Regions from separate parts of the Homo sapiens genome. Here region 2 is linked to region 1. A link means that fine-mapping ties the variant in region 1 to the expression of a gene that starts in the linked region. Tissue or cell type: whole blood. Region 1 holds a variant in brackets; the other region holds the start of a gene. All regions are shown on one strand. Distances are from middle to middle.

The links. PIP is the estimated chance that this variant, and not a neighbour inherited with it, causes the effect.
Region 2: NUDT12 starts here. The variant in region 1 is fine-mapped to the expression of NUDT12 in whole blood (TOPMed, PIP above 0.99).

The regions. Positions count from the first base shown.
Region 1 is chr5:103,530,742-103,536,133 of GRCh38, reverse strand. All of the region lies in intron 2 of LINC02115 (long intergenic non-protein coding RNA 2115), which reads left to right. Among named protein-coding and RNA genes, the nearest start is that of LINC02115, 8.5 kb to the left of the region's middle. The variant T/C (reference allele first, on the strand shown) is at 2,971.
Region 2 is chr5:103,559,846-103,565,237 of GRCh38, reverse strand. It overlaps NUDT12 (nudix hydrolase 12), which reads left to right and starts at 2,449. Exons shown (of 7, transcript NM_031438.4): 1 at 2,449-2,535; 2 at 4,984-5,195. The coding sequence starts at 4,990. RefSeq lists enhancers at 2,146-2,676, 2,677-3,209.

The sequences.
Region 1 (5,392 bases):
TTTTGAAGCTATCAGACAAGATTTCCTAGGGAAGGAGTTGATGAAGAAGTGAAGGGAACCCTGAAGATGTCAAAGATTAGAGACTGAGCAAGGGAAGATCCAGCGAAAGAATCTAAGAGGGAATGCCCAGTAGAGCAGGATAAGGATCAGAAGAGTGTGACACCATGGAATTAAAAGAAAAAAAAAGTGATGCAAGAGGAACAGAGTGATCAGTTGTGTCAAATTCTGCTGAGAGTGTGCCTAAGATGACACAGAATTGACTTTTGGCTTTGACAATATGGATGTCACTGGTCGATGTGGGTAAGAGCACCCTCAGTGGAGTGGTAGGGATAAGTGATAGAGTAGTTCCTGGAGTGGGCTTGAGAAAAGCTGTGGGGAGAGACAGTAGACTCAGAAAATATAGACAAATCCATGAAGATGTGTTGCTGTAAAGGTGAACAGTGACATGTGATGGTAGATGGAGTGATGCAGTGAAAGACAGAAATGGATATTGCAGGAGAGGAGAGGATAATTGCATTAAAATGGTTCAGGTACATTTACTTTTTCCACAAAATAAAAGAGATTTCATAGACTATGATATAAATTCAACGAAATCAGTTTGTATTAATTAATAATTAATTAGTATTGGAAAGCAGAAAGAGTTTCATTCAGCTTCTGTTTCCTATGAGGAATGTGTCAAGCCCATCGTTGAGAGTGTGGAAAGAGGAGGACAGATAGGAGGTTGGAGAAGAGACAGTGTAAAATAGTTTTAGAGATAGAAAATATGTAAATATTATGAAATCATTGTAGAAAAGCTTTAAAATAATTTTGGTGTCTCCATGTGAAATTAAAATGACAAATTCTAAACCATGTGTGAGGAAGTTCAACAATATTCTACTTTTTCTAACAGTGACTATTTTAAAATGTTTTGAAAAATCAAATATCAAATTATTTAATAGTCCAAAACTTTCTTTGGTGTTGCTACATTGCTCATGTTCTAAGCATTTTATTATATCTTTATATAGGCCTTTCTAAAATAGGGAGAGAGGCTGGAGAGAGCATAAAATGGTCAACCATATTGAAGGAAGAGGGTCATACAGGACAAGAGAGGTACAGAAACAGAAGCCTGATATTTTAAAGAATACCTTCTCCCACTCCTCATTTTGCTTAGGATCAATTTAGAAAATGCAGCTACAGCCATGCCATGTTTAACAGGCAAAAAGGAAGAAATGTTTGCTGCCATTCAATTAAAATAGAATTGATAGTACCCCTATAGCCAGTGATTTCAGACACTGCCATCAGCTGATATGGATGCCTCTTATGCAAGTACAGAGCAACAGAGATAACAAGTAGGAAAAAATATGAGCAATTTATTTCTTTAAAAACAGAATTTTAACTATCGACAAATTAAATACAATGTAAAAGGAAAGTATATTTAAAAATACAAGAAGGCACTTTATTAAAACTATAGTTAGGTACAGATTGGTGCTATCTAATTTATTTATTCATGCATATTTATTAGGTACCTATTATGTGTCTGGCACTGTGCTAGATACTAGGTTCATATGAAACAGTACATTCAATTTTCTGGAACAAAGTTGTGCTTTCTCAATGCTAAAGTGAAAACTGACTATAAAATTTGCTCTGTATGGTCAGAAGCAATCCAAGCGTATTAGTCTGTTTCCACACTGCTATAAAGACACTACCTGAGACTGGGTAATTTATAAAGAAAAGAGGTTTAATTGATTCCCAGTTCCACATAGTTGAGGAGGCTTGAGGAAACACAATCATGGCACAAGGGGACGTCTCACATAGCAGCAGGTGAGAGAGAGTGTATGAAGGATGAACTTCCAAATACTTACAAAACTGTCAGATCTCATGAGAACTCACTATCATGAGAACAGCATGGGGAAAACTGCCCCCTATCGGGGGAACCTGCCCCCAATTTCACATAGGTTCTTTTCTATATTCCCTAAGTGTTGGCCGGTCTGAGAAACAAAGGGACAGAGTACAAAAGAGAGAAATTTTAAAGCTGGGTGTCTGGGAGAGACATCACATGTTGGCAGGTTCTGTGATGCCCCCTGAGCCATAAAACCAGCAAGTTTTTATTAGTGATTTTCAAAAGGGGAGGGAGTGTATTAATAGGGTGTGGGTCACAGAGATCACATGCTTCACAAGGTAATAAGATATCATGAGGCAAATGGAGGCAGGGCAAGATCACAGGACCACAGGACCGGGGCGAAATTAAAATTGTTAATGAAGTTTCAGGCACGCATTGTCATTGATAACATCTTATCAGGAGACAGGGTTTGAAGCAGACAACTGGTCTGACCAAAATTTATTAGGCGGGAATTTCCTCATCCTAATAAGCCTGGGAGTGCTATGGGAGACTGGGGCTTATTTCATCCCTACAGTTTCAACCATAGAAGACGGCCGCACCCAAGGGGGCCATTTTAGAGGTCTACCCTCAGGGATGCATTCTCTTTCTCAGGGATGTCCTTGCTGAGAAAAAGAATTCAGCGATATTTCTCCCATTTGCTTTTGAAAGAAGAGAAATATGGCTCTGTTCCACCCGGCTCACCGGCGGTCAGAGTTTAAGGTTATCTCTCTTGTTCCCTGAACATTGCTGTTATCCTGTTCTTTTTTCAAGGTGCCCAGATTTCATATTGTTCAAACACACATGCTTTACAAACAATTTGTGCAGTTAACGCAATCATCACAGGGTCCTGAGGCGACATACATCCTCCTCAGCTTACAAAAATGACAGGATTAAGAGATTAAAGTAAAGACAGGCATAAGAAATCACAAGGGTATTGATTGGGGAAGTGAAAAGTGTCCATGAAATCTTCACAATTTATGTTCAGAGATTGCAGTAAAGACAGGCATAAGAAATTATAAAAGTATTAATTTTGGGGAACTAATAAATGTCCATGAAATCTTCACAATTTATGTTCTTCTGCCATGGCTTCAGCCGGTCCCTCCATTTGGGGT[T/C]CCTGGCTTCCCACAACAGCGCCCCCCTCTGCCATGATCCAATCACCTACCACCAGGTCTCTCCTTCAACATCTGGGGATTACAATTCAAAATGAGATTTGGGTGGGGAATTTGACAAAGCCTAACCATATTGCCAAGGCATCTATACCACGTGTGTCTGCTCAAAGAGAGAGCTTACTTAATTAGTGGTTTGCCACCATTAGTGAGATTCAGGAAGCACGGATGGTCTGGGTCCCAGTTTTTCACATACCGAATTGAGAGCTTTGGATGAGATAATCTTGAAAACTTCTAGACATTCTAGCGCAAAAATAATGTATGGTTTGGTCAGCTTTATTGAAGCCCTCACCTGCAGCTCTGATAAGATGGCAAGTCTCCCAAAGCCAGCCACTGCTCAGCTCTAATTAAGGGTATATTTTAATTGTTATGTATATATACTGTAACGGAGGTTAATAGCAAGTACCATTTCACTGGAACCATTGATAATGTTTTCAGTTGTGTTTATTCAAGACAACTTTGTAAGTTAAATTTTGTTAGCATTTCTATCTTAGAGGTAAAGGAAATTCAGCCTCACAGATATGACACAACCTGCTGAGTGAGCAGCAGAGCCATGGTACAGACCCAGATATTCTGAGTCAAAGTCAAGTGCTCTCAACTAAACTCAGTGCAGCAGGCTACATTTTTCTGTTTAAACTATGTGAAACCATTGAGAAATAATCACTAACCTAGTCATGTGCTTTTAAAAAAAGTATTTATTTATTTGGCCCTGTAATTGTACAAATTTATAAGGTACAATTTAATATTTCAGTACATAGCTATGTTGTGTAATGATCCAATCAAGGTAGTTAGTGTGTCCATTACATCATGCATTTATCATTTCTTTGTGGTGAGAACATTCAAAAAGCCTCTCTTCTAGCTGTTTTGCAATATGCAATGTTTTCCTGTTAACCACAGTCACCCTAGTGTGCAACAGAACACCAGAATTCATTGGTTCAATCTAATTGAGACTTTGAACCCGTTGACCAACTGCTCCCCACCTTCCTAACCCCTTCTTCTCCCCAATCTCTGATAACCACTGTTCTACTCTCTGCTTCTATTATATCAACTTTTTTTTTTTAAAGATTCCACATATGAATGAGATCACATGGTATTTGTCCTTCTGTGTCTGGCTTATTTCATTTAACATGACGTCCTCCAGGTTTATCCATGTAGTCACAAATAGCAGGATTCCATTTGTTATGGCTGAATAATATTCCATTATGTATATATACCACATTTTCTTTCTCCATTTGTTGTTAGACACTTACGTTGATTCCATATCTTGACTTGTGATAGCTATACAATAAAACATGGGAGTGCAGATATCTCTTTGAAATACTTATTTCATTTCCTTTGGATACATACTCAGTAGTTGAATTACTGGATCCTATGGTAGTGTTTTTTTTAAATTTTTTGAGTAACCTCCATACGTTTTTCTATACTATCTATACCTAGTCAAATGCCTTTGAAGCGTTTTTAAATTAGAAAACCCAATATGTGTAAGACAGGGATAAAAAAAGAAAGATATTAAATTGTGCATTTGTAATCCTCTGCGCAACCCAATCCCCACATTGGCCTTCTAAGAAGAGTGGATTACTGCTCACCTCATCAGCCACAGGAATGTAGTTTTGCTTATTGCAGGAGAATGTAGACAGGTTAATTGAAAGATGCCAAGAGAGTATCAATTGCTCTATATAAGAAAGGCAGCCTAGGGAAGCAGAATTTTCAGAAAATTAAGAGATTTGGAGAGGCTATGGAATAAAAAGTATTTTAAATCAACAGATATTATGACTTGGAGGAGAGAGATGAGTTATGAAGAATTTTAATAAATTTTTGCCAAAACTAGCCGCAAAGCAACCTGATTTTACATAAAACAAATAAGAGTCAAGCTTTTTGACTGAGGTGTCCAAAGACACAGCCTGGCCAAATACACCTAAAGCAAACTGCCTCCATGGGAAACTATTTCCTTTTCATCTTTACAGACAGATTAATTCTTTTAAAGTAAAGCAATTAGAATCAGGCTTAGCTCTGAGCACAGGCAGGTGCCTGCTTGAGGTGATAATTGGGAAATTAGGAGATGGCCTTCCCGCAGATGCCTTCTCCAACATCTTCTATTAGTTAAGACATCATCAACAGAGAATATAACCCTTTCTTTCACAGTTAAGGTAAAGAATTTGGTCTTCTACAATGAATTACCAACTCTACCAATATGTTTACTCAGTCATAATATTTAAATATGGTTATATATAATGACAGTGTAATGAAGGCAAACCATCTCCCTACCCCACTTAATTTTTAGCAGGGCTACAAATTTCATAATATTGGATTTAGGCTAACTTTACAAAAAATTGTGTGTTTCTATTAATATAGGAAACAATGAAACATA
Region 2 (5,392 bases), 29 kb before region 1:
GTGAAGTACAGTAAAGCAAAGTGCAATAAAACAAGGCACGTTTGTATACTTACCTGAAGGATATTAGGGAACTAACTAATTATTCTGAAGATTAGGAAATAATGGTGAAAATCGCACATTTATCCTATCTTTCCATATAAGCTGTATAGATATTTAATTAGATGAAGTTCTTTATTATAAAATAATTTGTTAGTAAATGTAGAGTGAATATCAAATTAGAATATCACTATTTGCAACTCATAACAAAATGATGGATGCAGGCAATAATCATGAATGGCTGCTAAAACTATTAGCTGAAAAGTTGATGGAAAAATTTATAATATATTTATCATAAATTTAATATTTAAATAATATAATTATATTTATCATAATTATATATCAATGTCATATATTTATCATAAACATTTACCATATTTTTATAATATTTATATTATTATTTATCATACATGTTATCAGGTTGACAACATCTGAACCCAATGATCAAGTATAACATTAAAAAAAGAGAGACAACCAGAAGTTGTAAGCCTCTTGAAGTAATTCAATACAAAGTAAACTGTAACACCTATAAAGTCTTTTGTGAAAAAAAATCAAACTTTAATCTGAGTAATTCTATAAAGTTAACTACCAGTTTGCAAGAAATACAGGGGGAAAGGACAGCACAGGAATAAAATCTGCAAAATTCAGAATGTGGAAAATTCTACAGAACAAATGATCATTACTCTTTAGTAAATAAACTGCCAGAAAAAAAGGGGAAGAGGAAGGAATCCATAGATTTTTAAAAATCAAATGTGATGTGGAGACTTTGTTCAGATGAATCAACTGAAAAACATATAAAACTTCTGAGGCAAGTGAGTAAATTTGATATTGAATGTTTCTTTTATGTTATTACAGAATTATTGTTAAATTTGTAATACTAGGGATATTGAAGTTGTGTTGTTTTTCAAAGCCCTTATATTTTAGATATAATACATATTTCCAAAAAGTTTACTCTTAAATATTTGTCATCAAAACAATATGGGGTCTGGAATTTACTTCAAAACAATCCTAACAACTGGGAGAACTATATATTAATAGTTGTTGACTCTGGATCATTAATACACGAGGGTTCACTATACTAATCTAACATATGTTTGAATGCAAAGATTGGGTACTCCAAGTGAAGTAACTAATCCTTTCTGACCACCTGTCTGGTCACTGAAATCATTAAAGGCTGAAAACAACTAGTCACATAAAGAAGCATAGGGCGGCCGGGTGCAGTGGCTCGCGCCTGTAATCCCAGCACTTTGGGAGGCCAAGGCGGATGGATCACCTGAGGTCAGGAGTTCCAGACCAGCCTGGCCAACATGGCAAAAACCTGTCTCTACTAAAAATACAAAAATTAGCTGGGCCTGGTGGCGCACACCTGTAATCCCAGCTACTCGGGAGACTGAGGCAGGAGAATCACTTGAAACCCCGGGAGGCGGAGGTTGCAGTGAGCCAAGATCGCACTACTGCACTCCAGCCTGGGTGACAGAGTGAGAACCCATCTAAAAAAAAGAAAAAAAAAAAAAAAACAGCAGCACAGGGCGTTAGAAGCCCTCATGATCAATGTCAACTGGTGCATACAGCTTCACAGTGAGAAGGAGCTTCCAAGGGTAAAATCTGGGTGGGAAACAGTGATCAATTGTAAGAGACCCCTGTAGCTGTTGCTGATTACCAAGGAGAGAGTTTAGTAAAGGAAAAAGCCCTGGTCTGGAAGTTAGAAGACCGCCAACACCTAGTTTTGTAATCTCGGACTCATAACTTCTGTAGGTTTTGGAGCATAAAAGCACAGGAACTGAAATAAAAAATAACGACAATAATTTTGTTGTGGGTGCCCACTCTGCACTTCACAACATCCTAAGAGCTTTGGATACATTATCCTATTTACACCTCACAACCCAAGGAGGTGTTTTGCGCGCTTGATACATACTTTTTAAAGGACTACTGAATAAGTTAGGCGTCAGTATATGATACCAGTTTTCCCATGGGGTGAATGATTAAGGTGTTACAGAGGCCGAATATCTCGTTTAAGAGTGACTTGGTCTAGTCAATAGTCCAGGATTATTTAACAGGAAAGAATGCTTTGAGCACTCAATTGCATTGGACTGTATTGGAGAGAGGGCTAGGAGTTGGGTGGGAGACGCTGGAAAATTTAAAATCGTTTCCTTAGGCCTACAGTTTTCCGATCGCCTGCACCACGTTCTATCTACACATCACAGTCTCAGGAGAAGGATTTTCAGCCCTTCATTCAGCTCCAATCCTTTAGACCGCGATCTCTCCCGCGCCGGCTCCCAAACACTTCCACCCCCAATCTCCACCCCTTCTCCCTTGCGCACAACCTGTGGGCTTCAAACTACATCTCCCATAAAACCGCGGGGGCCCCCCTCCCGCCCCCCCCCCACCCCCGGATCTCCACCGGAAGTCGGGAAGACTGCATCCGGCTCCAGGAAAAGCGAGTGGGATATCCCAATCTTTGGACTGCATCCTGGTTGCCTCTACTGTGGTCACCTTTGGGTTAGTAGAAGCAGTGGGGAGTTAGTCGTCTCATTGCCTCCTCTGGGGGCGGTGACCACTTCCCTGGGCTCTTTGGTTCCCGCGCTGCCCTGCGTGGCCCTGCTGAGTTGTGTGGCGGAGCCTCGTAGTGGTTTGGTGGGCGCAGGCGCGGGAGCCACGGACGCATTTGCAGGGGCTCCCGCGACAGGGCGGAGGTGCGGCGGTACTGAGGTCGTAGAGTTTCCTGCCCAAGCTGAGATGGGGAAAAGGAAGCGCTACTTAGGGTGTGATTTCACCTCGAAAGAAGGAATCTCACAGTAGTGGCAAGAAAGTAAAATATCTTAAGGCATTTTACCATTTTCAGAGACCGTGCACGGGTGGCACTTAATTGGTCTTGAGTGCCCAGGGAGTGGATGAAATTCGTTAATTGATGGTCAGTGATTTCAGTGACAGAGCGATATTTAAGGTCCTGTCCTGTCCCATTCGGTCTGTGTGAGCATGCGGAAGTCATGGGCCCCGGGTTACATGTCAGTAAAAGTGGATGTTGGTTTGTTAAAAATTTATGTCCCTTTACATCTAATATTCTTTTAAATGATTTCTCGGAATAGTCCTTGAGCTTCTTGGAAAACAAGGGCAGCACTTTATTCTGCCTTCAAATCTTTACCTTCTATAACCTGTCAATGAGAATTGAAAAAGTAAATCAAACAGTAGAATTGGGTGTTAGACTTTATGTGCTTCTCTGGAATGAATAATGGTACTATTTCTAGATGGCTTTTCTGCTGAGAAAGCTAGAGGGAAAAGTGTACACTTTCCACTTCCCATCTCCACAGAATAGCATATGCATAAGCATTGCCCTGGAGGTAGTGAATGACGCTGTATTTTTGAAGGACAATTTTGCAGTTACCTGGCGCGGCCTGTGAGAATGTGAGGGAGTGACGGTGACCCCAGAACATGAGACAGTGAAATATTATTCAAACTAAACCTAGCTGAAAAAACTATAATATGGGTTTTTGGAAAATAAACTTAAGAGAAAGACAATTTGGAAGGGAGATCAGTACAGGAGCTGTACAGCAGTGCTTCAAAATAAAGTCCTGAAAATTTGTAGCTTTTGTTATGCATAGTATTTTTAACGTATGTAGAAATTTCAATATGAAAGGAACAGCGAAGTAAATTCTAGAATAAATCAAAAATTATTCTGTCATGTAGATATTACTTCTGGTAATTTAATTTCTAAACAGATTTCCACTGTTAGGTTTCATCCAAGTGTTTCCATGACTGTGAGCAGTTTTAACCTATTTATAAGTAGCAGAAAGACACAAATAGGAAAGGTGAACAGCTCCAAAATGAGACAATTAATCTTTACTCCTTGTTTTCCCTAAATTTTGTTCATACTATTCCTGCTATGCAATTCATCAGCCAGATCGCCCTTTCAGAACCCAGGAGACAGCAGCTATCAAAAACTATGGGCTATAACCTTTCTGTCTTTTTAGCTTAAAAATCTTATTGCTTAGAATGATAGAAATGTTGTTAGAATCCCAAATCTTTTCTTAATAGCATTTCATAGAAAGAAGAATTATACCTTAAAAAAAAATACTTTGAGAAGTTCACAGACAGTTGAATCATGAACCATTTTCACCATCCCCCGCCGCCAAAAAAAAAAAAAGACAAAAAAAGCTCAGTGTGTGCTCTATCATCTGCAGTCCATGATTAGGCAATATTTAAGAGGTATGGAACAATTATTTCAGGGTTTACCCCACCGAAACAAAAAGGTGACAAAGCAGATAAAGTTAATGAGTTTTAAAAGCTGCTCTGATTCAAGGACAACAAAGTGACCAACAGAACTGTCCAATAATAGAACCAAAAATATATGATCATCTGATTTGTGACAATATTTGTCTCAGTGTAGTAGGACAAAGATGGTAATTTCAAGAATAATACGGAGTAATATGGATTATGCATTGGGTAAAAAAGTATCTTGACCCCTACCTCATGCCATGAACAAAAATAGATCCTAGATGGATTACAGAATTAATTGTGCAAGGTCAAACAATAAACTGTTTTCCTGTGAAACTTATAAAGTCTCTGCCTTTACTTCCATCTGTTTTAATGCTCTCCCCCTCATGTCCCCACCCATCGTGAAGTCCCCTCTGGTCTACCCTAAATACCTCCTCCTTATGTAATATGTTACCTGGTTCCCCCTCCCAAGGATATGGCCCCCTCGTCTGTACTGTCAGAGCTCTTTATTCATTATTTTGTGTAACTCCCATGGGCATATAAATTGCGTTGCATTTTATAATTCTAAACTGATAACATTTTGAAATTGAAATGTATGCTGTTTAAGGATTGCCTGTTGAATAGTATGTTGCCTTGGAAACCATTGCTATTATTCTATTGCTATTTATCAATATTGTTCATTGATAAAAAAGCAGTTGCAAATAAGCTTTTTCCCCTGATTTTCCTTCTTTTAAGGAAGAAATGTCTTCTGTAAAAAGAAGTCTGAAGCAAGAAATAGTTACTCAGTTTCACTGTTCAGCTGCTGAAGGAGATATTGCCAAGTTAACAGGAATACTCAGTCATTCTCCATCTCTTCTCAATGAAACTTCTGAAAATGGCTGGACTGCTTTAATGTATGCGGCAAGGAATGGGCACCCAGAGATAGTCCAATTTCTGCTTGAGAAAGGGTAAACATTTTAGGCTGTACCACCTGAAAGGGTTTGTGGTTTAATTTCTTTGTTACATATTTACTTTAAAATTTTGCTTGTTTCCATATTTATATTGTTGAACTACTAAATAACTCATTGGCTAATTTATGTAAAAATGTAGCACAATTTTTCTAACTTAAAACTTTGTAACCTTTTTCATTGAGAAATTATTTCTT